Linked DNA regions of Homo sapiens. The protein of the gene in region 4 interacts with the protein of the main gene of each other region in a biochemical or structural test. Each region holds a gene or a part of one and is shown on either strand. Other genes may lie near its edges. The genes, in order: CDKN2A, UBE2D3, OTUB1 and UBE4B.

Region 1 (6,937 bases), on a different chromosome or scaffold from region 4:
TAAGTAACCTATCCATCATCTCAAATATTTGACATTTTTGTCAAATGAGAGCATTTGGGATTTACTATTTAGCTATATTCATCATGCTATGAAACACATCTCAAAAAAAACAATCAAACTTATTCCTCCCATCTTAACTGAGGCTTTATATCTTGATTACCATCTCCCCATTCCTCCCACCCCCCAGCTCTAGTAACCACCATTCTACTCTTTACTGCTAAGAATGTAATTGTTTTATATTTCACAGATAAGTGAGAACATGTGATATTTGTCTTTCTGTGTTTGGCTTATTTCATTTAGCATAATGCTCTCCAATTCCAAAACTTCAATTTCTTCAAGTATAAAATAAGAAGGCTAGTTTAATTAACCCTAAAATTCCTTCCTGTGGTAGGCTGAATAATGCCCCCCCACCCCCAATGTCTATGTCCTAATCCTCAAAAACTTTTAATACATTAACTTATGTGGCAAAAGAGGCTTTGCAGATGTGATTTAATTAATGGTCTTGAGGGAGATTATCCAGAATTTTCAGGGTGGGCCCAACATAACCCCAAGTGTTTTTATTAGAGGGTCACAGTCAGAGAGAAGATACAAGAATGGAAGCACAGGCCACAGAGAAAATACAGAGACCATGAGCCAAGGAATTTGATGGTCACTAGAAGCTGGAAAAGACAAGGAAACAGATTGCCCCTTAGAGTTTCCAAAAGGAATGAAACCTTGTGGACCCATTTTTGACTTCTGATCTCTAGAACTGTAAAATAATAATTTTGTGTTTGTTTTAGCTAACACATTTGTGATAATTTGTAACAGCAGCAGTAGGAAACTAAAACACTTCCCAGGTTTATGATTTGAGAGTTCATTAAACAAGAGATGGTCACCTCTTTGGTTCCTAAATCATCTTGGAAACAAAGCCATTTCCAGAGAGGAATTTTAAAATACTGTCTGCAGTCATAGCAACCTTAAAATTTGAGTGCTGCATGGTGGAAGTAGACAATTTATTTTAGGATAACTGTTATTTGTTATATTAGTTTGAGGATGGTGGTGTTAAAGAGGAGTTACTTATTTTTAGGTACATTTCATACTAAACACAAATTGCATAATTTGCCTAAATCAAGGAATTATACTAAATTATATTATGGTTATTAAATCCTGTCCTGAGAAAGTGAAACTGACTCAGTTTTCAAAGAGACAAAGAGAAAGTATAAGCAAACCAAATTGCAGCTACAAAAAGAAAGACAAAATGTTGCAGTATATTTATTGTTTTGTGTATTCAATGAAGTCCTTCGTCTTGGTCATAAAACTAGCCTTAAAGGTTTTTCTTATATTTCATAGTATGAAAAATCTAAAAAGTAACCCATATGTAAATATTTAAATCATGATAGAAATCCAAAGCAAAAAGAAAATGAATCAATTGAATTAAAATGTGTAGGATGCTTAAACCCATTTGATAATATATCCATTTGATAATATACTAATATGAATTTAGTACTTTAAAATGTTATATAAATAAATGTTCCTATATTAAACACCAATGTAGTTAGGATTCTAAGCCAACATCATTTCCCCTTTTCTACATGTTCTTCTCCCGTCTCCATTAAAAATTGTCAAAACTATCCACTTTTCTTTTTCCTTTTTGTTTTTAAACAAATAAGGTCTCTTCTAAGATATTGTAGGACTACAAAGCCAAACTCCCGGGTTCAAGCTGTTGGCAAAATTTTAGAGATGCTAAGTTACCCATGTATTAATTACTTTTAAATCCTCCCCTAACTCCCTCACAAAACAGGAGTAGGGAGAGGAGAAACACCTCTGTTCAAAAATGAGGAATTGAAAACTCTTATCACAAATAAACTATATCAAGTAAGCTAAAGATAGTAAAAGAGCAAAAATGTTAGCAGATATTCCCAAAATGGTAACTACATATTACCTCTGGAATGATCACATGAATGTGGCTCATTATTTCCTAAGTTCCTACAGCAAACATATATTTATTTGCCCTACTCAGTTAAAAATAAACACAATATGTAGTTGCTTCTGAATAATTTTTCTCTCTCTCTTTCTCTCTTTCTTTCTTTCGACAAAGTCTCACTCTGTCACCCAGGCTGGAGTGAAGTGGCTCCATCTCGCTGTTCACTACAACCTCAGCCTCCCGGGTTCAAGCGATTCTCCTGCCTCAACCTCCCGAGTAGCTGGGATTACAGGCGCCTGCCACCACCCCCGGCTACTTTTTGTATTTTTAGTAGAGGCGAGGTTTCACCTGTTGGCCAGGCTGGTCTCGAACTCCCGACCTCAGGTGATTCCCCCCGCCTTGATCTCCCAAAGTGAAGGGATTACAAGGCGTGAGGCACCGCGCCCGGCCGCTTCTGAATAATTTCGATCAAAATTTATATTCGATATTTATTCCAACATACACCACAGATTTCCACTGATAATCCCTCCTAGTAAGAAAGATAAGCTCCATCCAGGTATCTGTGAATTGGAGGCTAAGTAGTCCCAGCACATCTTACATTTCTTTAAGACTCCCTTTTTATCCCAAACGTTCGTAAATTTTGTATCTGATAAAGAGCATACTTCCATCTAATACAAATATGTTCCCCCCTTCAGATCTTCTCAGCATTCGAGAGATCTGTACGCGCGTGGCTCCTCATTCCTCTTCCTTGGCTTCCCAAGCCCCCAGGGCGTCGCCAGGAGGAGGTCTGTGATTACAAACCCCTTCTGAAAACTCCCCAGGAAGCCTCCCCTTTTTCCGGAGAATCGAAGCGCTACCTGATTCCAATTCCCCTGCAAACTTCGTCCTCCAGAGTCGCCCGCCATCCCCTGCTCCCGCTGCAGACCCTCTACCCACCTGGATCGGCCTCCGACCGTAACTATTCGGTGCGTTGGGCAGCGCCCCCGCCTCCAGCAGCGCCCGCACCTCCTCTACCCGACCCCGGGCCGCGGCCGTGGCCAGCCAGTCAGCCGAAGGCTCCATGCTGCTCCCCGCCGCCGGCTCCATGCTGCTCCCCGCCGCCCGCTGCCTGCTCTCCCCCTCTCCGCAGCCGCCGAGCGCACGCGGTCCGCCCCACCCTCTGGTGACCAGCCAGCCCCTCCTCTTTCTTCCTCCGGTGCTGGCGGAAGAGCCCCCTCCGACCCTGTCCCTCAAATCCTCTGGAGGGACCGCGGTATCTTTCCAGGCAAGGGGACGCCGTGAGCGAGTGCTCGGAGGAGGTGCTATTAACTCCGAGCACTTAGCGAATGTGGCACCCCTGAAGTCGCCCCAGGTTGGGTCTCCCCCGGGGGCACCAGCCGGAAGCAGCCCTCGCCAGAGCCAGCGTTGGCAAGGAAGGAGGACTGGGCTCCTCCCCACCTGCCCCCCACACCGCCCTCCGGCCTCCCTGCTCCCAGCCGCGCTCCCCCGCCTGCCAGCAAAGGCGTGTTTGAGTGCGTTCACTCTGTTAAAAAGAAATCCGCCCCCGCCCCGTTTCCTTCCTCCGCGATACAACCTTCCTAACTGCCAAATTGAATCGGGGTGTTTGGTGTCATAGGGAAAGTATGGCTTCTTCTTTTAATCATAAGAAAAAGCAAAACTATTCTTTCCTAGTTGTGAGAGCCCCACCGAGAATCGAAATCACCTGTACGACTAGAAAGTGTCCCCCTACCCCCTCAACCCTTGATTTTCAGGAGCGCGGGGTTCACTAAGTCAGAAACCCTAGTTCAAAGGATTCCTTTTGGAGAGTCGGACTGCTCTCTCCTTCCCCTCCCCTTCCCCTCCTGCGTGTAAAACGGCTGTCTGGGGCAAGGGTTTCTCAGACGTGTACATTGCCTGGTATAAGAGCAGACTCTGAAAAGATGAGGTTTATTTAATACGGACGGGGGAGAATTCTGCCTGTAGGCAGATAGGAAAATGGGGAGGGAGTCATTGGAAGGACGGACTCCATTCTCAAAGTCATAATTCCTAGACCAGAAAAAGTGCTCAGTGTTCTAGAAGCAGAGTTGCACAGTGATCCAAAGACCAGCTTCAAATACTGTCCTGTCTCCTTCACACTTCTCACATTTCTCTTTCCTACTGAAAATACCTTGCATTTTTCGTAATTATAAAGGGGGAAGGGAATATGAGTGCCCCCTGCTTTATAGGGGTTGTTGTGAGTTTAAATGATGTATTAATACATATAAGCCTTAAGAACAGTGCCACACATCCTAAGCTAATACCTGTTAGCTCTTGAATTATCCGCTTTGAGGACTGGCTTGCAATCTTGTTTTGAGGCATAGAAAGAAAATGCTTTGGAGCAGGACGCGGTGGCTCACACCTGTAATCCCAGCACTTTGGGAAGCCGAGGCGGGCAGATCACCTGAGGTCAGGAGTTCGAGGCCAGCTTGGCCAAAATGGTGACACCCCGTCTCTACTAAAAATACAAAAATTAGCTGGCCATGGTGGCGCACGTGTGTAATTCCAGCTACTCAGGAGGCTGAGGCAGGAGAATCGCTTGAACCCGGGAGGCAGAGGTTGCAGTAAGCCGAGATCGCGCCACCACCCTCCAGCCTGGGTGACAGAATGAGACTCCGACTCAAAAAAAAAAAAAAAAATGCTTTGGATAGAATTATCACTATTACATAAAAGGAAAGTCCGGATGCGGTGGCTCACGTCTATAATCCCAGCATTCTGGGAGGCCGAGACAGGCGGATCACCTGAGGCCAGGAGTTCGAGACAAGCCTGACCAACATGGCGAAACCCTGTCTCTACTAAAAAATACAAAATTAGCGGGGCTTGGTGGCGCATGCCTGTAATCCCAGCTACTCGGAGGCTGATGTAGGAGAATCGCTTGAACCCAGGAGAAGGCGGAGGTTGCAGTGAGCCGAGATCGCGCCATTGCACTCCAGCCTGGGAGACAAGAGCGAAACTTGGTCTCAAGAAAAAAAGAAAGAAAGAAAGAAAGAAAGACCAAGAAGAACTTACTCCCTGAAAAGATTATGGGCACCCTCCACCACCCTCACTTACAAAGAAAAGTTAAACAGCACTAAAGAGTATAACAAGCGCAAGGAGGTAAAAGTTCTAATTTTTCCTGTGACTACTACTTTTTAAGCTTATCAAAAACATGTACTACGTTTTAAAAAATGGATTGCTCAGACTTTGCTGATGCCTTAAGCACATGCTTAATCTGCCTACTGGATAATCCAGCTCTGTTTAAAAGTTATATTTCAATCCCTGGTTGACTTAAACCTTGTAGACCCAGTATATCTTGTACTTTTAGTGTCTGCTTGATTTTAAAACATGTAGTTTTTAAAATGAAGCCAATGAAAACAATTTGGGATGTCAAGTATGTTATTAAAATCTACAATGCATTACTGTACCATTTATATTTTCCTCGGGGTACCTCTCAATTAGCTGTGTAGCAATGATAGGGAAAATTCAAACTATCGATAAATAAAATTATTTTAGTTTAGTTTAAGATATTTTATGATGGAGGAGGAAGAAAGTGGTTGCCAGGATGGGAGGGAGGGAACACATTTCCATCACTAATACAATGGTTCTTTCTTTTTGTTTGTTTGTTTTGTGTGTTTTTTTGAGATGGAGTTTCGCTCTGTTGCCCAGGCTGGAGTGAAATGGCACCGCACGATCTCTCTCGGTTCACTGCAACCTCCGCCTCCCGGGTTCGAGCAATTCTCCTGCCTCAGCCTCCCGAGTAGCTGGGATTACAGGCACATGCTGCCATACCCAGCTAATTTTTGTATTATTAGTAGAGACGGGGTTTCACTATGTTGGCTAGGCTTGTCTCGAACTCCTGACCTCAGGTGATCCACCCACCTTAGCCTCCCAAAGTGCTGGGATTACAGGCATGAGCCATCGTGCCCGGCCTACAGTGGTTCTTAATGGGGGTGGGAGAGTGGGAAGAGTAGGCTCCTTCAAGAGTCTGTTGAAATAAATACCTTCTTCTCAAAAAAGAAAGTAGGTAATGATTTTTTTTAAAAAAGATGTGTTCACTTGCACATGTATTTCTAGATAAAACTTTCAGTGAATTCAGGGATTTCTCTGAAACTCTACCATGGATTCCTACATCAAGAACTCTTTCAGCTCTTGTGAAAAATATATATAGCTATTGGTGAAGAAGATGGGAGATGCAACCATATAAAAACAACATTTGGATGCATTATAAACAGGTGTAAAAGTTGACTGCTTTGGAAATACCAAGAACAAGTTTTAGATATGTATATCTCATATCTTGCAGTAGAGCTCTGGAAGGATTATGGCATCCTTGGGTGGGGCCATTTTGCTCTAGAAATTGAAGTCCATTATCCATTATAAATCTTATGTAGGGGGGAGGGGGGAGGGATAGCATTAGGAGATATACCTAATGCTAAATGATGAGTTGATGGGTGCAGCACACCAACATGGCACATGTATACATATGTAACAAACCTGCACATTGTGCACATGTACTCTAAAACTTAAAGTATAAATAATAATAAAATTAAAAAAATATTATGTAAATAATTAATAATAGTGGGAAAACTTTCCTAGTTTTTCTGTTAAAGAGCCCATTATACTCCCAGTTTACTCATACATATCGACCTGAGGTGCAAAATCCTAGAAGAATGAAAATATAAAGTCCTGGATCTCTGTGCTCCTTATGCCAGTCTCAGATTTCCTATGTGCAAAATGGGATTATAATATATTTCATGTGGCCATAAAATATGATAATGTATGTCCAAAAGCTTTTAATGTAAAAATTTACTACATTTACTAAATTTACTAAAGTTTGTTGGTTATTGTTATTATTATTCTCACACTTACTTTTCCTCTTTCCTGAGAATGCCATTCTTTTTTTAGATTTGCACTGCCTTTGCAGTTTTGAAAATTCTACACGTGAAATTTAAACCTGTCTTAATTCTGATCAGTCTTATAACAAAAAAAGACTACCACCTGTTCATTCATTCAACAAGCTCAGAAACTAAGGGCAGACATGGG
Region 2 (7,023 bases), on a different chromosome or scaffold from region 4:
ATTTACAAAAGATTGTTTCCCATACTGATTAATCCAGGCAGCTAACTCATTGGTTTATGCAACTTTATTGAAGAAAAATAAATCAATTACTAGCAGAGCTATTAGTTGATCACTCATCCATTGACAACTTGCATCATTTATTCAGTGCTATATTAAACAGTGTATTGGAAGATAGATTAACTAATAGCTCCAAGCCTCCTAACAATTTAAATGAAAATTACAAAATGTTTGAGACCCTATTTTGGAATACAAAGGGTGTTTGACTTCCAATTTCCATTCTCTGTAGAACAAGAACAGGTCATTCCTTTATTGACATGCATAAAATACATCACATTTTCTGTTCTGCTGATGCTATAAATTCAATACCAATTCTCCAGCCACATCAGTTATGAGCATAAAGCATATCATGTAACCTCAAATCTCTAACAGTGGAAGGCTTAAACAAGAATGGATGCTGCTAGAATAATGCTGTATCCTTTGATGTGACAACTGAGCATCCATCTCCCTCCCCCTCAGATGATTTCTTCAGCATGTTAGAGCAGTGAGGAATGGTTTTAGTCTCATAACCAAGTTAGAGTGAAGACATTGGCCACATAATACACATGCTCCATTTTTTTTTTTAAAAATTCTGAGTCTTGGGCAACTGTTCTCTTGTAACTACTTTACAGTTTCTAAAAGCAGTTATTGTCCAAAGCTGGAAGAACTTAAGTCTTCTCAGATGAGCATGTGAATGAATGGAGGGAGGTAAACAAAAAATAAAATTAAAAAAGATGAGGTCTGATAGGGGAGCAGCCGGATAAGAAAATCAAAAAAGGAACAGTAATTTAAAGTTTATTCCAGCTATAATGCAGGTTATTCTGACTTTAAGGTAGCATCACATGGCATACTTCTGAGTCCATTCCCGAGATATTCTGTTGTACCTGTAAATAAAGATGTTATTTTTAAAAGTTAAAATAAAGAATTCCTAATACTTTAAATGGAAGGGAAAGATTTCCATTTTATCATCTCCAGACTCATCATGAAGTCATCTCTAATGACTATGATTAGAATAAAAGCCAACAAGGGAGAAATAGCACTGGTACTCAAAGCAATGTGGGAAATGAGAGCCTGATGCTCTGAAAGTAGTATTTTAAAAACAACTAAGAAAGCAGCACTGAAAATTGGGAGGCTAACAAAAATCAAAAGACCCTTTCTTTCTCTACCACCGAGCTCATGCTCTAATTTTAACGTGAAGAAATTTTTACAGTTCATTATGGACAAATGTTAAAATAGTATACACATTCTATCTATCCACAGAAATTTCCACCAAGGCCAGAACTAGGCTTTTACTAGAACAATTTTATCTGAATCCTAGAGTTTGGGAAATTACTTGGTCCTGGATATTACAAGAAAAAATGGCTTTGGGACTTAGGTAGAGGCAGAAGGGGAAGATGACACTGGGCAGAATGACAAAGGGCAGTAATTTTCAAAAGGGGTGTGTGTGTGAGTGGTTGTGTTCATCAGAATCACGTGTTACTTTTAATAAGTGTGGTAACTGAGGCTAATAAGCACCACTGAGACCTGTTGAGTACAACAAGGGCATCTTCGTTTAAAAAGATCAACAGGTAATTCACACACAAGCAAGGTTATTACTCAGGAAGACTACTAACATTGATAAATACTATCAGCTTCCCCCTGGATTATACTCATGCCATAGACTACTTACAACAACAAAAAACAGTGATAACCTTAAGAAATGAATATATATATATATATATGCACAGGAGAATTTTTATATTGTTTAAATATTAACTAGCTTTATTTCAAACCAAGAACCAAATATGGTCCAACAACTTTCCTAAACTTTTTAAAAAGTTCTTTCTACCAATTCATTGTCATCTCCTAAGGATACTCTCTCAAAAAGCCAGCACTTTAAAACAAAGGCTTTATTTAGCATACAGGGAGCCACAAAGTACAGCTGACGCTAATGCATGCTTGTCAGTAATGAACATTTAGTTTAGATGCTTAGGCTTAAAAGTGTTTTTCCCTTACATTACTATCTCCCGGCAAAATTTGAACTAAACCACCACATTCTGTATAGGATTGGTACAAAGTCTCAAGCTAAAATTTAAACACCATGATAGTTTGAAAAAAAAAAAAGATACTACATAAATTCCCATTTCTTACTAGTGCTATTGTAACTGCTTTGCCATGCAGTACTTTCAAGCAATAACGGCTACCAGATATTTACTTTCACGTTAAACAGAGACCAAGCAGTTAAATGTACAGTTTTCAGAAGACTGCCATATTTGTTACCTTTTGTTAGTTAATACAGTGCCTTAACGCATGCAGCACTCAAGTGCTGGCAGTACCATAATAAGCGCACCATAGAGTGCAGATCCTCTTACCCTACAACATAGCGTATTTCTCTGTCCACTCTCTTGCTAACCTATTGTACCTAATTGAACAAGTACACTTAGCATTAATTATAACATATGAAAGTTATAATGGTTAAGTTGAACATAAATATAATTCAAATATTTGAGAAATTTAGACCAAATTTTTACAATAGTACTAACATTTTTGGAAAAACATGCTTGGGGTAAAGAAAAATTTGCTTTCTTCCCCAAAAGTTGAGAATAAAGTGATACTGTTTAACACGCTAGGAAAAAAAAAACAACAATAAAACATTTTAGAGGGGAGCATTCACTGTCACATAAGCTAAAGCCTAGTTAAGTTTTTTTAAATAACCACATTTCAATAGCTTTCTCCATATTTTAACTATTATCTTACTAAATATCAAGTCTTCTTGGCACTGTCACAAGCAAAGTATAAGCCTAACTCATTAAGTAAAACCACTTTTATAATAACTTTTTAACATACTTACTTATCTCTGTCTGTTTTATAGATCCGTGCAATCTCTGGCACTAGGGGGTCATCTGGGTTTGGATCACATAGCAGTGAACAAATGGATAAAAGAACTGCAAGAAAACAAAAACATCTGTTACCCAGTTTCAGGAGTTTGGATAAATAAATTTTTCTAAACCGTGTATTACAAAACTCAATCCTCAAAAGACTTTTATTAGTTTGTATCTTTATCTCAATGAGACACAGTTTTACAGAGATTTTGTTTCACAGAAGACAAGCTCCTGGTAAGTAAGAAGTGCTAAAAACAGGGTTTTGTGGCATGAAATTCACTGCAGACTAGCCATAAAAATAGTTTCTAAGATAGGCAACTGATGCCATATTAATATATATATTTTAAATAGGCATAAATGATATTAGAACTTGAGTTTCTTGGTACTCAGTGGCTGGGGGGGGGGGGACTTTAGCAAGAATATGCAGGTAACACTCATGCCATATTCATAGCCATTAGGCATGATGAAAAATCCATTCTTAGCCGTTGTCTTGGCAATTTCTGAGAAAAACCCTCAAGTGCTCCACTAAATGTCTCCTTGAACTTGTAAGCAAGAAACCATATTCCCAAGAGTACTAGTTAAATACAATGCCAAAATCTCTTTAGTACTAAGTGAGTCATCAGCTCTAGTTTTTACCTTAACCAGTTCAACATACTGATGTATAAGATGTCAAGCATTAAGGAACATAGATCGCATTCACTTTGAGTGCCTGCTATGTGCCAGTCACCATATATGGTGGTGCTGTTATAAAATGTTAAGATATAAATGCTTGAAATGGTTCTGACCGATTTTTTTTTAAAAAAAGCAATAGTATAAAAAAGACAACACTGTCACATATTTATTGACTACAGCAAATTTAATTTCAAACCCCAAATACAGCAGAATATAAAATTACCTAATATAGGAGACTTGGCTATACAATAACTCACAGAAAAAAGGTAGCTTCAGTTGTGACTGCTAGTTTAATAAGTTAGCAAAGTATGGCTGCCAAAAAAGTAAGTTGCTTTAACGACAAAACAATACCAATTCAATCTGCCCTTACAAAAACAGTTTTCAGTGTTACTGTACACTCCCAGCAGTAGTAGAAAAACTTGGAAACTGATATTTAGGTATGTAGCATGATTTGAAAAGAAATTAGAAAGCATCCAAGAAGGTGAAAAACAGGTGTAAAATTTTAAAAACACTCGAATTATGGCAGCATCTGCCTAAGTTGTTTCTTTTTCTCCCTTAAGTGATTCTACTCAATAAAGTTTGGGAAATGCTACTGCTACAGTCTCTCTCCATGAGATTCAAGTGCAGTATATACACATATGAAACTTTTATACAATGCCTTGCCTTTTGAAAAAGCTTTTTTGTACTTACTGAACTCATAAAATCAAAAAACAATTAATGGTGAAATAGTGTTAATTATTACAACTTCACCTGGGATATTCATGCGGAGACCGGAAAACTTGTTACATATAACGTAACAGATACCTATTAAGAGACCAGAATTGATCTACAGATCTTTCGAAGATTATATAATTTTAGACTGTCATTAGGTAGAAACAACCTATCATGGTTACATAAAACATGACTGAAGATTTGTCTAAAAATTAACCCAGGAAAGCAAAATCAGAATTTTCCTAGAGTGGAAACCTCAGGATTCAAAAGCTCTATTAAGTTTAGGTATATCATACCATTCTTGGTAAAAAGGCCGCAAGTTAGTGTGAGATGTCCAAGTGGTTTGGGATTGAAAAATACAGAAGTCTATTAAAATAAATTTTGCTATTATAAGATGAGATGAAGGTAACTCATTAGGCAAATAATGCCTACTCACCACAATTTGAATTTTAACAACTTCTCACAAAGTATCTTTAATCAACACCACTAAAAGAACAAAAATTATAAAAGTAACTTTATTGCTTCCCCATCTCTTACCAAAAAGCTGCCATAATAAAAATACTCAGATAAGTAGATCTAAGAATGAAGCTTTATTAGACAATGAGAACAGCTTATTTCACTAGAAATATTTACCTTTAGAAATTGTTAAAGCAGGCGACCACTGTGATCTTAGAATATCGAGACAAATGCTGCCATTACTGTTAATATTTGGATGATAAATTCTTGTTGTAAATGCAACCTAAAACAAAAACTTTTAAGTATTTTATTCAAATAAAAACAAACATCTTTTAAAGCAAAACTTAAAATAATCAAGCCACAATGTTAAAAATGTCATCTATTAGCATAGAAGTTCTAAATATTATAGAAACTGATTTTTACAATCTGACCACAACCCCCTGCCTCCTCTTTTTACAACAGAAACCTAAACTTTTGGATAAAAATTTCATTACTCATATGATGTAAAGTTCTAAAGGTTACTGTGGCCCTACCATATCATGAATCAAAGGGCAATTTAAAGGTATTTAACACATTCATTTATAAAAGCCCTAACTTTTGGATGTAACCAAAATTTGTAGACCATCTCATTTAAAGTTTCATTAAGTTACACAGGTACACCTGAGTCTGCATTTCCACCGTACATAAAACATAAACTTGAATCACAAAAATGGAAACCATCACATTGCACCTATAACATTACTAGAGATTGTTATAGTGACATGTTTATGACCTTTGTATATTACCTTTTCTAGTTATTCATACAGGTTGAATTTATGTTAATGACTGAAAAGTGAAGGATAATATGCTTTTAATACCTATAAACCAGTGCACTAAGCAACTCTAAGTTTTCACAAATTTACACTTACGTATACAAAACTATAAGCATAATAAGCATATGCTGTAACAATACGTGCAAATATAAATTGAAGTTGGACATTTGATGCTTACAAGACAACAAAAGCCCAAAAATCAGAATCTGTGTAACAATAATACAGATGAGGGCGGAAGCTTCCACATGGTCTGAATCTTGCAACATTAAAGAAAAGGCAAACCTTATTCCTATTTACAAAGCTCAAACTGAGGTCTAGCTCTTTAAACCAAAGGTTAAGAGTCAGCATCTATACATGAGTGCAATTCAACATATATATACAGCCTACACAGAACCCTATCTTCCAAGAATGCTCTATTCCTTTGAAATAAAGCATAAATCTATACTAACAGATTTTGAGGGAAAATACTTGCCTTAGGTGGTTTGAAGGGGTAGTCTGTAGGAAAATGAATTGTCAAAAAGAATACACCGCCTTGATATGGGCTGTCATTCTGTAAAAAGAAAAGTATGCTTAACTCAAATTTAAAATATTATTGCTAAATATTCCGTAACATTTGTTTCCAAGCATTTCTCTAATAATGAACCCAAATCACCTATTTACACTGCAATAAATAATCTATTCCATGAAAATTCAGTCTATAGTAATAGAAAAAAACTTAAAACTTATACAGTAATAAACCCTAATTTATCTAGTCATTTTACACGTCACCAAAATGTTTTTTTAAAAAGTTATCCAGAAACGCAAGTATTCTAGATCTCAATTCTCAAAAGTACAACACAGCAATAAAGCCTACATAATCATGTTTCAGAATAATCTGTAAACAAAATTTTACACATGTAGATTATTTCTTCCAATAGCCAGATGTGTACAAATGGCTTCACAACAGTCCATTCTGCCCACTGGCAAACCAAATGTTAGCTATTCCAGGTAACACACACACACCACCTTCAAGAGGAGAACAGAGAAAAGCCTAAGCTTCTCATTTTAATCAATACCAGAAAATACATGCATTGCCCCTATTTTATGCATGAGAAAAATGAGGCTTAAAGAACTTAGTCTAGTGTACAAATGGTAAATGATAGAACCAAGATTCAAACACAAGTCTTTTGAAGACCACTTAATGATCAAAGATACTGACCTACTCAGGAATTTAAAGTTAAAATGTGGAATGCCTAACTGCTTCTGGGTATGCAAAGAACCAATCCGAAGACATGTTTTACAACTTACATGAACTGGGTTTTTACCAACACTGACTCCCCTCTATTAGAAAGGCTTTGTATATACAGCTATATATGAGCCTTTCACTATGCCCATTCTGGATGTCAGGCACATAAAAAACAGGCCTGACACTAACACAGCTCATCTAATTCCTACCCTTCTGTAAAATAAATAAACATTAATTCAATTAATCTAAC
Region 3 (7,023 bases), on a different chromosome or scaffold from region 4:
ATCTTCTGGCCGGGCACGGTGGCTCACGCCTGTAATCCCAGCACTTTGGGAGGTTGAGGCGGGCAGATCACCTGAGGTCAGGAGTTCGAGACCAGCCTGGTCAACATGGCGAAACCCCATCTGTACTAAAAATACAAAAATTAGCTGGGAGTGGTGGTGCGCGCGTGTAGTTCCAGCTATTGGGAAGGCTGAGGCAGGAGAATTGCTTGCATCTGGGAGGCGGAGGTTGCAGTGAGGCAAGATCCCGCACTGTACTCTAGCCTGAGCGACGGAGTAAGACTCCGTCTCAAAAAAAAAAAAAAAAAAGGCCTGGCGCGGTGGCTTACACTTGTAATCCCAGCACTTTGGCAGGCTGAGGCGGGCGGATCACGAGGTCAGGAGATCGAGACCACGGTGAAACCCCGTCTCTACTAAAAATACAAAAAAATTAGCCAGGCGTGGTGGTGGGCACCTGTAGTCCCAGCTACTCGGAGAGGCTGAGGCAGGAGAATGGTGTGAACCCGGGAGGCGGAGGTTGCAGTGAGCCGAGATCGCGCTACTGCACTCCAGCCTGGGCGACAGAGTGAGACTCCGTCTCAAAAAAAAAAAAAAAGCATCTTCCCATAGGGCGATTGTGAGATTGAGGGAGGTGCAGGCTGGGCAGGAGCTGATGATCTCGGTGCCCATACGGGGGCTGACCAGGCTGGTGCTCAGTGGGGTAGGAGGGTTGCCAGAGGGCTGTTTCCCACAGCTTGCCTCCTGGATCTTTGTGGAGAGGCAGGCAGCAGTGGGGTCAAGGGGCCACAGATTTCCTCAAAGGGCCCTGCTGCATCACTCAAACGGAGGCAAACTTCACCACCCACTTTCTAGGTCTGTGAGCTGGGAGGATGACATGTGAAATGGGGCCAGGCATGGTGGCTCAAGCCTGGAATCCTAGCACTTTGGGAGGCTGAGGCCAGAGGATCGCTTGAGCCCAGGAGTTCAAGACCAACCCAGGCAACATAGTGAGACCTTGTCTCTCCAAATCAAAAAATTACTGGGTGTGGTAGCACATGTCTATAGTCCCAGCTACTCAAGAGGCTGCGGTTGGAGGATCACTTGAGCCCAAGAAGTTGAGCCATGATTGTACCACTGCACTCCAGCCTGGGTGACAGTGAGACCTGTCTCTTAAAAAAATAAAAAAATAAATAAATAAATAAATAAATAAATGTGACAATGGGTGTGTGGAAACAGTATCTGGTAGGCTCAGTGTAGGTGTTTAGTAAATGTTTCTCTTCCCCTGGAAGATGACAGATGCTTAGAGTCCTCTACTGGTAGGGGAGGCCTCTGTGGCCAGGTAGGTAACCCAGGTGATTGAAGGTGGCCAGGAAGTCAGATGGTGAACAAGGAGGGCAGCACAGCTCAGTATCAGCCAGACACTAATAGGGAGCAGAGGCCCCTGGGGGAAATGGGAGTGTCCATACCATTGTCTCCAGATCTGTTTTTCCAAGAGAAGCCAGAGGTAACCACAGCTCCTGACTTCTAACAGTTGGCAGCTAATTCAAATTTTAAATGTGTGGGCCAAACACACCTGCAGGCCAGATCCAGCTGTGTGAGATCTGTGCACTGTGATCTACTGAGGCCCCCTCCTCAGGGAGCTAGATTTCCTCAGGGTGCCTGTGGAGAGATGAAGGCACTGGCTGTGGAGCCTGATGGGCCTGGGTTCCAGTCCTGGCCTCACCACTTTGAGCTGTGTGATCTCGGGCAACACCCTGAAGCTCTTGGATCCCCTGTTCTCTCTGGGCGGGGACATTGTCTGCCTCACAGGGCAATTGTGAGGGTTGAAGGAGATGTTACGGGCGGTTGTAAGCAGCGGGTTACAAAGCTGCTCCTCTCCCCATACAGGGGGTGAGCTTCATTCATTCATTCCTCTTATGTCAGTGTCCTCCAGTGGGACCCCCCATGCCAAGGCCTGCCGCTCATGCTAGACCACCCTGGTAAAGTGGACAGGACAGGCTGGGCCCCAGGTTCTTCCCACGGAGTCATCAAACATTTGGATGTCCAGAGCATGCTGTCTAAAAGGCCTCTCTGTGCCCCCAGCACCCGCATTCTGTATGCTGTGCCTGAGCCCACCTTTTCTCCCTGGGCAGAGACAGCTGTGGCAGCAGAGCCCAAGCAGAGAGAGCTCCTCTCTCTCTAAATGGGCTCTTGTGAGGATCAATTAGGATGACGTTTATTCGCCCTGTGCCAAATCCCTGGCACAGAGAGTGTGCTCACAATGGCCATGGTGGCTGCTACAGTAGCAGTGGTGATTTGGGTTCTTTGTGGTCCTGGTGTGCTACTCATTTAACGTTTATTGAGAACGGACTGTGGTCCAGGCGCTGTTCTAGGTACTGAAGATAGAGCCATGCAGACAAAGTCCTGCCCTCACAAAACTTACAGTTCAGGGTGGAAAGACATGATAAGCCAAAGAGGGCTCTGGGACATGTGGGGTATCAGAAGGCGGTGAGTGCTGTGGAGAAAAATGAAAAGGGGATCGGGGCCGGGCGTGGTGGCTCACGCCTGTAATCCCAGCACACTGGGAGGCTGAGGCAGGTGGATCACCTGAGGTCAGGAGTTCGAGACCAGCATGACTAACATGGTGAAACCTCGTCTCTACTAAAAATACAAAATTAGCCGGGTGTGGTGGCGCATCCCTGTAATCCCAGCTACTTAGGCTGAGGCAGCAGAATCTCTTGAACCTGGGAAGTGGAGGTTGCGGTGAGCCGAGATTGTGCCACTGCACTCCAGCCTGAGTGACCAGAGCAAAACTCCACCTCAAAAAAAAAAAAGAGGGGATTGGGAGTGGGAGCATTTGCCATTTTAAACAGGGCTTGGTGAAGGCCTTGCTGATGAGGTGGTATTTGAGTAATGAACAGAAAAAGACCGGGGAGCGAGTCACAGGCGTCCGAGAGCAGTGCCCACCCAGGCCCGAGGCGAGAGGGCACCTGGATGGTTTGAGGCCAGCATGGAGGCCAGTGTGGCTGGTGGAGAATGAGGGGTTGGGGCTGGGGAACTGAGCGGGGCGGGGCGGGGTGGGGTGTTGTGGCGAGAGAAAGGACTCTGAGGGAGATGGAGATAGGGTGCATCTGGCAGGTGACTCTGGTCACTTTTCTTTTTTTTTGAGAGAGAGTGTTGCCCTGTCACCCAGGCTGGAGTGCACTGGAGTGCAATGGCACCATCTCAGCTCACTGCAACCTCCACCTCCCGGGTTCAAGCAATTCTCCTGCCTCAGCCTCCTGAGTAGCTGGGATTACAGATGCTCGCCACCATGCCTGGCTAATTTTTGTATTTTTAGTAGAGGTGGGGTTTCACCATATTGGCTAGGCTGGTCTTGAACTCCTGACCTCAAATGATCCACCCACTTTGGCCTCCCAAAGTGCTGGGATTACAGATGCCCACCACCATGCCTGGCTAATTTTTGTATTTTTAGTAGAGGCGGGGTTTCACCATATTGGCTAGGCTGGTCTTGAACTCCTGACCTCAAATGATCCACCCACTTTGGCCTCCCAAAGTGCTGGGATTACAGGCCTGGGCCATCACGCCAAGCCGACCCTGGCCATTCTCTTGCTGGGGTGAGAATAAACTCCAGAGGGTGAAGGGGAGGCAGGGACACTGCCAGGAGACTTGTGCAGTAAAATCTGCTGGAGGCGGGCAGCGGGTGGTAGAGGTGAGGAGTAAGAAGCAGTTGGATACCAGACATATTGAAGGGATGGATATGGTGATGGAGTCGGCAGCGACTGGAAGGCTTTGGGTGCTGTGGGTGACTGAGGTGGGGCAGCCTCGGGGAGGAGCAGTTGTTCGGAGGTTGATCTCAGCTGCACTCAGTGGAAATGCCTGTTGGACAGTTCAGAGGAGGTGTGGTGAGGCTGGTAGATAGGAGGATCGTAATTGGAGTTGAGAGTTGAGATTCACACTTGGGGCTATTTAAATCCTTGAGACTTTGGCTAGGGGCAATGGCTCATGCCTGTAATCCTAGCACTTTGGGAGGCCAAGGTGGGTGGATCACTTGAGGGCAGGAGTTCAAAACCAGCCTGGCCAACATGGTGAAACCCCATCTCTACTAAAAATACAAAAAAATTAGCCGGGCATAGTGGCGCGCGCCTGTAGTCCCAGCTACTCAGGAGGCTGAGACAGGAGAATTGCTTGAACCCGGAAGGCGGAGGTTGCAGTGAACCGAGATCGCGCTACTGCACTCCAGCCTGGACGACAGAGCGAGACTGTCTCAAAAAAAAAAAAAAAAAATTGCTTGAGACTGATGTCGTCAAGAGAGCAAGTATAATTTACATTTTTGTAGAGATGAGGTCTTGTTGTGTTGCCCAGGCTAGCCTTCAACTTGATCCTCCCCCCTTGGCCTCCCAAAACACTGGGATTACAGGTGTGAGCCACTGTACCTGGCCATGAGAGTGAGTGTAGTTTCAAAGAGGAAGCTGGCCGGGTGCGGCACTTTGGGAGGCCGTGGCAGGCAGATCACATGAGCCCAGGAGTTCGAGACCAGCCTGGGCAATATGGTGAAATCCCGTCTCTACAAAAAATACAACAATTAAATGGGTGTGGCGGTGTGCACCTGTAGTTCCAGCTACTCTGAAATCTGAGGTGGGAGAATTGCTTGAGCCTGGTAGGTTGATGCTGCAGTGAGCCGTGATCTTGCCACTGCACTCCAGCCCAGGTGACATAGAAAGCCCTGTCTCAGAAAAGAAAAAAAAAAGAAAAGTGGAAGCTGTCCCAGGCCTGAGCAGGGCGGGGTAGGCACATGGGAGACAGCCCTCATGCCCGTGGTCACATGGCAGGCACAGTGGCTAAGTGTGCAGTGACTGTTTTCCTTTTTCCTTTTTTGAAACGGAGTCTCCCTTTGTTGCCCAGGCTGGAGTGCAGTGGAGCGATCTCGGCTCACTGCAATCTCCACCTCCTGGGTTCAAGTGATTCTCTTGCCTCAGCCTCCAGAGTAGCTGGAACTACAGGTGTGTGCCACCACGCCCAGTTAATTTTTGTATTTTTAGTAGAGACGGGGTTTCACCATGTTGGCCAGGATGGTCTTGATCTCTTGACCTCGATATCTGCCTGCCTCAGCCTCCCAAAGTGCTGGGATTATAGGCGTGAGCCACCACACCCAGCCTCAGTGACTGTTTTCTTGCAGGTGACACACCATGTCTCGAAGGGTGCTGTATGGTTTGGTGGCATCCCTGACCCTCAGAGCTTAGAGAGATGAGGAGTGGCCTTGGAGGCAGGAGGAAGACAAGGAGAGGGTGGGGGCGCCAGCCCAGGGAAGGAGGCATCTAGGCAGGGCCACAGCCAGTGGCCTCAGTTCTGCTAAGGGGCCAGTGGGGGTGGGGCGCTGGGTTTGCCCCCTCTGATTGAGGGCGTTCAGCTGACCTTGGCTAGAGCAAAAGCCTCCCGAGGGAGAAAAGAGGTGGAGGCAGCACGGACAGCTTCATGAGGAGTTTTGCTGTAAAGAAAGCAGAGAAATTGAAGGGTAGCCAGACAGAAACGTAAAGTCCAGGATTCCCTTCCTTTTAAAGAAGTAGCTGAATGTGTATATGCTGTTGGGTCTAAACCAGTAGGGTGGGAAAAATTGATGATGGGGGTACTTCCTAGGATGATGTCTTTTTTTTTTGAGATAGGGTCTCACGCACTCTGTCACCCACGCTAGAGTGTAGTGGTGCCATCACAGCTCACTGTAGCCTCGACCTCCTGGGCCCACACAGTCCTCCGACCTCAGCCTCTCGAGTGGCTGGGACCACAGGATGCACCACCATGTGCAGCTCACTTGCTTATTTTTCAAGATGGAGTTTTGCTCTGTTGCCCAGGCTGGAGTGCGATGGCGCAATCTCGGCTCACTGCAACCTCTGCTTCCCGGGTTCAAGCGATTCTCCTGCTTCAGCCTCCCGAGTAGCTGGGATTACAGGCATGCACCACCATGCCGAGCTAATTTTATATTTTCAGTAGAGATGGAGTTTCGCCATGTTGGTCATGCTGGTCTCGAACTCCCGACCTCAGGTGATCCAACCACCTCAGCCTCCCAAAGTGCTGCGATTACAAGCGTGAGCCATCGCGCCCAGCCACTTATTTTTTTTAGAGAGACGGGGGTCTCACTGTGTTGCCCAGGCTGGTCTCGAACTCCTAGGCTTAAGCGTCCTCCCACCTTGGCCTCCCAAAATGTTGGGATTATAGGTGTGAGCCATGGCGCCCAGCTTGGAATGATGTGCTTGAGCCTGAGGGTGGGGGTGGGCTAGTGTGGAGTGGAGAGGCAGCTTAGGTGGCAGCTGGAACAGATCCTCTGAGGATTGTGGGAGGAGGCCAAAGGCAGATGTGCTGGTGGGGGCTGAGGAAAAAAGACAAGGTCATCAGCTGGGGGTAGGAGCAAGATGGGTAGGGGAGAGGGGAGGGTGCCCAGGCCAGGGGAGTGAAGTGTGCTTGCCAGGTGAAGTGTGCGTGGTGGGTGGGCACCTGTAATCCCAGCTACTTGGGAGGCTGAGGCAGGGGAATCGTTTGAACCCGGGAGGTGTAGGTTGCAGTGAGCCGAGATCGCGCCACTGCACTCCAGCCTGGGCAACAAGAGCAAAACTCTGTCTCAAAAAAACAAGTAGAGGAGGGAGGCTGTTTCTAGCCCCAGGAGGGCTGCGGGCAAGGCTTAGAGGTGGGGGAACTCTTCTCAGTGTGGCGGGAGCGGGGCTGAGCTGGGCTGTGCAGAGGGCCCCAGCCACCTGGTTGAGGCGTGGAGGCCAGCACTCCACCCTGGCCCTGACTTGCTTGCCCTGAAGTTCTCTTGGGCTGAAAGACTGGAGGAAACGCATTGCTCAAGGACATTCACTCACCTGTTGTTGTACAGTCCTGTAGGCCCCGCAGAACTTTAGTGACCCATGCAACTAGTTTGTCCTTAAGTGCCCAGCTTCCTGCCGTCTTTTGGGAGGACTCTGGGCAGTGGGCCGCTCCCATTGCCACATTCAGCAGCCTGTTTCAGGGACCCAGGGTGGCAGGTGGCTGCTGGGAGCTCAGTTGCCACCTTTGGAGTGTGACCTTTGCTGG
Region 4 (7,981 bases):
AGGTCAGGAGATTGAGACCATCCTGGGCTAACACGGTGAAACCCCGTCTCTACTAAAAACACAAAAAATTAGCCGGGCGTGGTGGCGGGCGCCTGTAGTCCCAGCTACTCGGGAGGCTGAGGCAGGAGAATGGCGTGAACCCGGGAAGCGGAGCTTTGCAGTGAGCTGAGATCGCGCCACTGCACTCTAGCCTGGGCAACAGAGCGAGGCTCCGTCTCAAAAAAAATAAAATAAAATAAATAAAAAATAAAAAAAAATAAAAAAACTATCTCTGGCCGGTCACGGTGGCTCACGCCTGTAATCCCAGCACTTTGGGAGGCCGAGGCGGGCAGATCACAAGGTCAGGAAATCGAGACCATCCTGGCTAACACAGTGAAACCCCGTCTCTACTAAAAACACAAAAAAATACAAAAAACTAGCCGGGAGTGGTGGCGGGCGCTTGTAGTCCCAGCTACTCCGGAGTCTGAGGCAGGAGAATGGCGTGAACCCGGGAGGCAGAGCTTGCAGTGAGCTGAGATAGCGCCACTGCACTCCAGCCTGGGCGACAGAGCGAGACTCCGCCTCAAAAAAAAAAAAAAAAAAAAAAAAACAGTATCTCTGCCTTAAGAGAAATTACTCACTAGAATTAACATTAATGAAAAACGGGGGAGGTAGAGAAACTTTTAAAAAACCACATAAAACAGGCCAGGCGCGGTGGCTCACGCCTGTAATCCCAGCACTTTGGGAGGCTGAGGCGGGTGCATCACGAGGTCAAGAGATGGAGACCATCCTGGCCAACATGGTGAAACCCCATCTCTACTAAAAATACAAAAAATAGCCGGGCGTGGTAGCGGGCGCCTGTAGTCCCAGCTACTCAGGGGGCTGAGGCAGGAGAATGGTGTGAACCCGGGAGGCGGAGCTTGCAGTGAGACGAGATCGCGCCACTGCACTGCAGCCTGGGCGACAGAGCAAGACTCCGTCTCAAAAAAACAAACAAACAAAAAAAAACCCACATAAAATAAAGCGATTCTAAGGAGATTTCCTACCGAATGAAAGAAACTGTGTAATATTCTCTTCACTTAAGATTACATTTCTGCTGTATTCGAAAAAAACAAAGTAACGCCGAATGGGCAGTCCTGATTTTCCAAACCAAGTATCCAAGTATCACAATCAACAAAATCATTTGCTTCCTTTCCTACCTGACCCTTAACACACCACTGCGTGTCCTATCCCAGGAGAATTTCAGTCCCTAAGTAAACACACTAAGTACTCTGTAGCTAAAACTGGAGCATGGAAGTCTTGTAGTACAATCAACTTGATGGATGACTGCTTTCCTAATACTGTAGGGAAGTTTACATGATGAACCAGTGAAGAAATGTGGAGGTAGGCTAAAGAGGGTATGGCCAGTAGGGGTCCTGAAAGGGAAGCTCCTAATTTGCAAAAAGGAAGAGAAAAGGCAGTAGAATCATAGGAAATTCCTTGTACCCTAATTGCCACTGCTTTTTGGTTGTTTTTTTTTTTACAACAACCTAATTTATTAAACAATCTTTAAAACATCAAGAAGTAGATCTGTATAACTCCTTTAAGAAATGAGAACAGGAGAGAGTTTAGAAAGTCATTTGCTTCCACTTGCTTCCCGTTCAGTCTCTGCTACAGCAAAACACAAGTTTGAAAGATTCAAGAAGTAGGAAAAGATAGAATGTAACAGAAGAATGCCAGAAGTCATTAGTGGTCTATTAAGTACCAGAATATAACTGGAATTCTCTAAACTGTGGAGAAGATACATATTTTGTTAAATATCAAAGAATCTGTCTGTAAACCACCCCTCAAGCAAAAATATATGTTTAATCAAGCTTATACAGTGCAATAACCACACATATCTGGAATTTCAAATGCTTTCTTTAAAAATATTCACCCACCATACATTCTCATTCCATCCAAAATTGTTCTTTAAATTCCTGAAGACACAGACACACACACACTTTAACTTCATGTAAATCTCGCCCTTCTTGTTCGCATACCCTGAAGAAAAGAATAAACACCTCAAGATGCTCTCTCCTCTTGTTCATACCCTAAAAGAACACTCGGAAAGAAGCAAATGGAGTTCAGAATGAAGAAAGAAGGCAACAGAATAAAGGAGAACAAAACCAGAGACCCTATCGGGGAGTCACGTTATTCTTGGAAAATATCATCTCCGTTCCTTCTCCAAGCCCAAAGGCCAGACAGCACTGGCGCAATACCATCCCTGTCCAAAGCGCTAACGAGTTGCCAACTAATCCCTCAAGGTGTCCCCCAACCTCCTCACCTCATCAGCGCTCAGCTCCTCCATCGCTTTCCTCTTAATGGTGAAAGGCGTTAAGGAGAGATCCTTCTGTTCTCGAGACCACGGCGGGAGGAAGGAGAGTGGAAGGTGTCTATCAGGCTGTCTGGTCCCCCGAATGGGGGAGGTTTCAGAATTGCATAGTCAGAGGTTAAAAAATAAGAACACGAGAGGCACTAAACTGCCTTGGCTTCGGTCACTCCAGTCGCCCCACAGACTACTACAGCCGCTTGTTCCCTGAGCAGCCTCCTTTGGCCGCCACTGCTGCTGCTACAGGGTTGTCTTAAGGCGCCACTTATTACCCTCTGCTTCCCAGGTTACCCAGCTAGGCAGCGCGGTCTCCAGTTCGTCTCGTGCCCCGAGCCTGCTGTTTCTTCGTGATAGTGGCGCGGTAGCTGCGTTCCTACAGCAGATCCTGCTCTCCTTCCTACCCTTTGCTCCTGGCGGGAACTGGTCGACTGCAGAGTGGATACCCCGAGGTAAGGCGACCCCACAGCCGTCCTGGCAGAGCCCAGCACTGTAAGGGAAGCCCCTCCCCTCCCAAAGCAGGCCGGCCACGCCCCGCCTCCACGCCGGAGCCCGGGTAGGGGGGAGGGGGAGGATGGGATGCGCGTAGCTCTCGCTGGAAGAGTAAATCCTCCTACCCCTCCACCCCTACTCTTTCCCCCTCGCCCCACCAAGTATTATTCATCAAAACAACAGGGCGGCCATCTTTGAAAGGGATCACGTGACCCCCGTCAGGGAGGCGGGGCTTCTGGCGCCGGGACGTGGCAGCCAATAGGCCGCGGGCGCCGCGCCGCCGAGTTCCTCTCGCCTGCGTCCTCTCCCCGCCTCCGTCCCACCCCGTCCCGCGCAGCCGCGCCGGACGTGGGGAGGGGCAAAGGGAGGCTGGCGGCTGGGCGGGGCGTTGCCACGGCGACCGCGCTGGGGCTGCGGGCGCGGCGGGCCTGAGCCAGGTAGGCTGGCAAGGGGAGGGACGACTCCCAGACTCGCGTCGGGGAAGATCCACCAGAAGGTGGCGCTGGCCCGCGGCCCGGGGGCCCGCCGCGCCTCCGTTGTTCCCAATCGCCTGCTTTTCTGTGACTTGGGGGCCTAGAAACACCTCATCGCTCCCACTGGACTGTGCGCGCCCGCCGCCTAAGCGAGGGAAAAGAAAACGGAAAACGTCTCCTTGACCCCGGGAGCGTGATCTACCGTATTGAGCGCTCATTTTCTGAAACATCTGCCACACACTCTTCCACCTCCTCCAGGAAAGCCCAGTTGGAAGAAAACTCGAACACAAGAACTCCCATTCATTTTATTTTACCTTGGCCTTTTAGAGATACTTCCTGGGTTTTTTTTTTTTTAAGTGTGTTCAAAAAGTATTGGTAAAATTTGAAAGTATAAATGGATGAGAGACCCAAATCACTGAATTGTACACAGCAAATGCAAGGAAGACGTTTGGAGTCAGTGGGGGAAAACCATCCTCCGGTGCACAAGAATACAAATATTTGGCCGGGCGCGGTGGCTCACGCCTGTAATCCCAGCACTTTGGGAGGCCGAGGCGGGCGGATCACGAGGTCAGGAGATCGAGACCATCCTGGCTAACACGGTGAAACCCCGTCTCTACTAAAAAATACAAAAAATCAGCCAGATGTGGCGGCGGGCGCCTGTAGTCCCGGCTACTCGGGAGGCTGAGGCAGGAGAATGGCGTGAACCCGGGAGGCGGAGCTTGCAGTGAGCCGAGATCGCGCCACTGCACTCCAGCCTGGGCGACAGAGCGCGACTCCATCTCAAAAAATATATATATATGTATGTATATATATATTTATAAAATATAAATCTAAGTTGAGCGATCAAAGTAACAGTACCATGAAATTCCAGATTTTGCCGCTGACGAAGACTATAAGTGGATTGGATGGCTCACTAAGCCATAAAGACTGCATTCCAGAATTAAGAGTTACAATGTATTTGCTACATGCTTAAAATAGGAACCTGACTACTAGATATGTAAGGAATTTGTGAGTAAAAATATGTAAGGAATTTGTGAGTAAAAATAAATCACTGCTGGCTTTGCATATTATCTGCTCTCCAGGAAAGGAATTCTGTGTAAGCCAGAACTTGAACCCCTGGTGACATTGATGTTAAAAGTTTACTTTTTTTAACCTCATTATTGCCATCTAATTTACATACCATACAATTCACCCAATTAAGGTGTACAGTGGTTTTATTATGTTCACAGTTCAGTCATCCTCACTGTCCAATTTCAGAACATTTTCATCATCCCAAAAAGAAACCCTCAAAGCCATTAACAGTCACTCCCGGGCTGGGCGCAGTGGCTCACGCCTGTAATCCCAGCCCTTTGGGAGGCCAAGGCGGGTGGATCAAGAGGTCCGGAGTTTAAGACCAGCCTGGCCAAGATGGTGAAATACAAAATACAAAAATTAGAAGGGCGTGGTGGCGGGCACCTGTAATCCCAGCTACTTGGGAGTCTGAGGCAAAGAATTGCTTGAACCCGGGAGGCAGAAGTTGCAAGGAGCCGAGATCGTGCCACTGCACTCCAGCCTGGGCAACAGAGCGAGACTCCGTCACAAAAAAAAAAGACTCCTGCAGGATAACTACCTTCTGTCTTGGTGAATTTGCCTATTCTGGACATTTCACATCAGTGGAGCAATACACCGTGTGGCCTTTGGGGTTTGGCTTCCTTCACTTAGCATATGTTTTCAAGGTTCACGCATATTGTAGCATATATCTGTACTTCATTTCTTTAATGCCAAATGTATCACTGTATTGCTGTAGCGCATTTTGTTTATCAATTCATAGTGATATTTGGGTTGTTTCCACCTTTTGACAATTATGAGTAATGCTGCTATAAACATTCATGTACAAGTGTTTGTTTGGACATATGTTTTTATTTTTATTCCTTTTAGGCATATACCTAGGAGAGGAATTGCAGGATTACATGTTTGACTTTTTGAGAAACTGTCAAACTGTTTTCCAAAGCAGCTGCACTGCCACCAGCAATGTGTGAGGGTTCTAACTTCTCTACATCTCTACCAACAATGGTTTTTGTCTGTCTTTTTTATTGTAGCCACACCAGTAGATGTGAAATGGTATCTCTTTGTGGTTTTGTTTTTCATTTTCCTAGGAGCTAATGATGTTGAACATCTGCTTAGGTTTATCTTCTTTGGACAAATACCTATTCATTCATATTCTCTGTTCTTTTTTTTTTTTTTTTTTTTTTTTGAGATGGAGTCTTGCTCTGTCACCAGGCTGGAGTGCAGTGGCGCGATCTCAGCTCACTGCAACCTCCACCTCCCAGGTTCAAGTGATTCTCCTGCCTCAGCCTCCCAAGTAGCTGGGCCTACAGGCGCCCACCAGCATGCCTGGCTAATTTTTGTATTCTTAGTAGAGATGAGATTTCACCACGTTGGCCAGGATGCTCTCGTGGATCTCTTGACCTCGTAATCCGCCCACCTCCGCCTCCCAAAATGCTGGGGTTACAGGCATGAGCCACTGTGCCCGGCTTTTTCTCTTTCTTTTCTTTTTTCTTTTTTTTAAGACAGAATCTTGCTCTGTCACCCAGGCTGGAGTGCACTGACACAATCTCGGCTCACCGCAACCTCTGCCTCCTGGGTTCAAGCGCTTCTCCTGCCTCAGCCTCCCGAGTAGCTGGGATTACAAGCATGGGCCACCACGCCCGGCTAATTTTTGTATTTTTAGTAGAGACAGGGTTTTGCCATGTTAGCCAGGCTGATCTCAAACTCCTGACCTCAAGTGATCCACCCACATCGGCCTCCCAAAGTGCTGGAATTACAGGCGTGAGCCACTGCACCTGGCCCTCTGTTTTTTTGTGTGTGTTTTTGTTTTTTTGTTTTGTTTTTCTTTTTCCCTCTGTTCATTTTTAATTGGGTTGTCTTCTTTTTTTTTTCTTTTTTTTTATTTATTTTTTTTATTGATCATTCTTGGGTGTTTCTTGCAGAGGGGGATTTGGCAGGGTCATAGGACAATAGTGGAGGGAAGGTCAGCAGATAAACAAGTGAACAAAGGTCTCTGGTTTTCCTAGGCAGAGGACCCTGCAGCCCTCCGCAGTGTTTGTGTCCCTGGGTACTTGAGATTAGGGAGTGGTGATGACTGTTAATGAGCATGCTGCCTTCAAGCATCTGTTTAACAAAGCACATCTTGCACCGCTCTTAATCCATTTAACCCTGAGTGGACACAGCACATGTTTCAGAGAGCACAGGGTTGGGGGCAAGGTCACAGATCAACAGGATCCCAAGGCAGAAGAATTTTTCTTAGTACAGAACAAAATGAAAAGTCTCCCATGTCTACTTCCTTCTACACAGGCACGGCAACCATCCGATTTCTCAATCCTTTCCCCACCTTTCCCCACTTTCTATTCCACAAAACCGCCAGTGTCATCATGGTCCGTTCTCAATGAGCTGCTGGGTTCACCTCCCAGACGGGGTGGTGGCCAGGCAGAGGGGCGCCTCACTTCCCAGTAGGGGCGGCCGGGCAGAGGCACCCCTCACCTCCCTCCCGGGTGGGGTGGCTGCCGGGCGGAGACGCTCCTCACTTCCCAGACGGGGTGGCTGCCGGGTGGAGGGGTTCCTCACTTCTCAGACGGGGCGGTTGCCAGGCAGAGGGTCTCCTCACTTCTCAGACGGGGCGGCCGGGCAGAGACGCTCCTCACCTCCCAGACAGGGTTGCGGCCGGGCAGAGGCGCTCCTCACATTCCAGACGGGGCGGCGGGGCAGAGGCGCTCCCCACATCTCAGACGATGGGTGGCCGGGCAGAGACGCTCCTCACTTCCTAGATGGGATGGCGGCCGGGCAGAGACGCTCCTCACTTTCCAGACTGGGCAGCCAGGCAGAGGGGCTCCTCACATCCCAGACGATGGTCGGCCAGGCAGAGACGCTCCTCACTTCCCAGACGGGGTGGTGGCCGGGCAGAGGCTGCAATCTCGGCACTTTGGGAGGCCAAGGCAGGCGGCTGGGAGGTGGAGGTTGTAGCGAGCCGAGATCACGCCACTGCACTCCAGCCTGGGCACCATTGAGCACTGAGTGAACGAGGCTCCGTCTGCAATCCCGGCACCTCAGGAGGCCGAGGCTGGCGGATCACTCGCGGTTAGGAGCTGGAGACCAGCCCGGCCAACACAGCGAAACCCCGTCTCCACCAAAAAAATACAAAAACCAGTCAGGCGTGGCAGCACTCAGCAGGCTGAGGCAGGAGAATCAGGCAGGGAGGTTGCAGTGAGCCGAGATGGCAGCAGTACAGTCCAGCTTCAGCTTGGCATCAGAGGGAGACCATGGAAAGAGAGGGAGAGGGAGGGGGAGGGGGAGGGGGAGGGGGAGGGGTTATTTGTCTTATTGTTGAGTTATAAGAGTTCTTTTGTTTGTTTTTATGTTGTTTATATTTATACGATTCCCAAACTATTTTTCTTTTATTATTATTTTTTGAGTTGTAAAAGTTATTTACATATTCTGGATACTAGTCCTTTATCAGATATATGATTTGCAAATATTTCTCCCATTCTGTGGATGTCTTTTCACTTTCTTGATTGTATAATTTGCAGCACAAAAACAAAACAAAACAAAAATACAACAAAAAAAAACTTTTAATTTGGGCCTGATATAGTGGTTCACACCTGTAATTCCAGCACTTTGGGAGGCCGAGGTGAGGGGATCGCCTGAGGCCAGCACC

Evidence for each region.
Region 1: the proteins of UBE4B (region 4) and CDKN2A form a complex in vitro, tested with the Homo sapiens proteins (one study listed by BioGRID).
Region 2: the proteins of UBE4B (region 4) and UBE2D3 form a complex in vitro, tested with the Homo sapiens proteins (5 studies listed by BioGRID and IntAct, with this or other methods).
Region 3: of the proteins of UBE4B (region 4) and OTUB1, one has a biochemical effect on the other in vitro, tested with the Homo sapiens proteins (one study listed by BioGRID).

Annotation. Positions count from the first base shown.
Region 1 is NC_000009.12:21,971,839-21,978,775, forward strand, and holds the start of CDKN2A (cyclin-dependent kinase inhibitor 2A), read right to left. Parts: upstream 3,020-6,937; 5' UTR 2,990-3,019; coding exon 2,840-2,989; coding exon of another isoform or gene 2,639-2,839; exon of another isoform or gene 2,566-2,638; intron 1-2,565. UniProt on the Homo sapiens protein: Acts as a negative regulator of the proliferation of normal cells by interacting strongly with CDK4 and CDK6. This inhibits their ability to interact with cyclins D and to phosphorylate the retinoblastoma protein.
Region 2 is NC_000004.12:102,796,541-102,803,563, forward strand, and holds part of UBE2D3 (ubiquitin-conjugating enzyme E2 D3), read right to left. Parts: intron 6,099-7,023; coding exon 6,021-6,098; intron 5,020-6,020; coding exon 4,914-5,019; intron 3,036-4,913; exon of another isoform or gene 2,961-3,035; coding exon 2,867-2,960; intron 2,438-2,866; coding exon of another isoform or gene 2,389-2,437; exon of another isoform or gene 2,388-2,388; intron 921-2,387; coding exon 875-920; 3' UTR 1-874. UniProt on the Homo sapiens protein: Accepts ubiquitin from the E1 complex and catalyzes its covalent attachment to other proteins. In vitro catalyzes 'Lys-11'-, as well as 'Lys-48'-linked polyubiquitination.
Region 3 is NC_000011.10:63,989,438-63,996,460, forward strand, and holds part of OTUB1 (ubiquitin thioesterase OTUB1), read left to right. Parts: intron 1-7,023. UniProt on the Homo sapiens protein: Hydrolase that can specifically remove 'Lys-48'-linked conjugated ubiquitin from proteins and plays an important regulatory role at the level of protein turnover by preventing degradation.
Region 4 is NC_000001.11:10,027,998-10,035,978, reverse strand, and holds the start of UBE4B (ubiquitin conjugation factor E4 B), read right to left. Parts: upstream 3,022-7,981; 5' UTR 2,309-3,021; coding exon 2,285-2,308; intron 1-2,284. UniProt on the Homo sapiens protein: Ubiquitin-protein ligase that probably functions as an E3 ligase in conjunction with specific E1 and E2 ligases. May also function as an E4 ligase mediating the assembly of polyubiquitin chains on substrates ubiquitinated by another E3 ubiquitin ligase.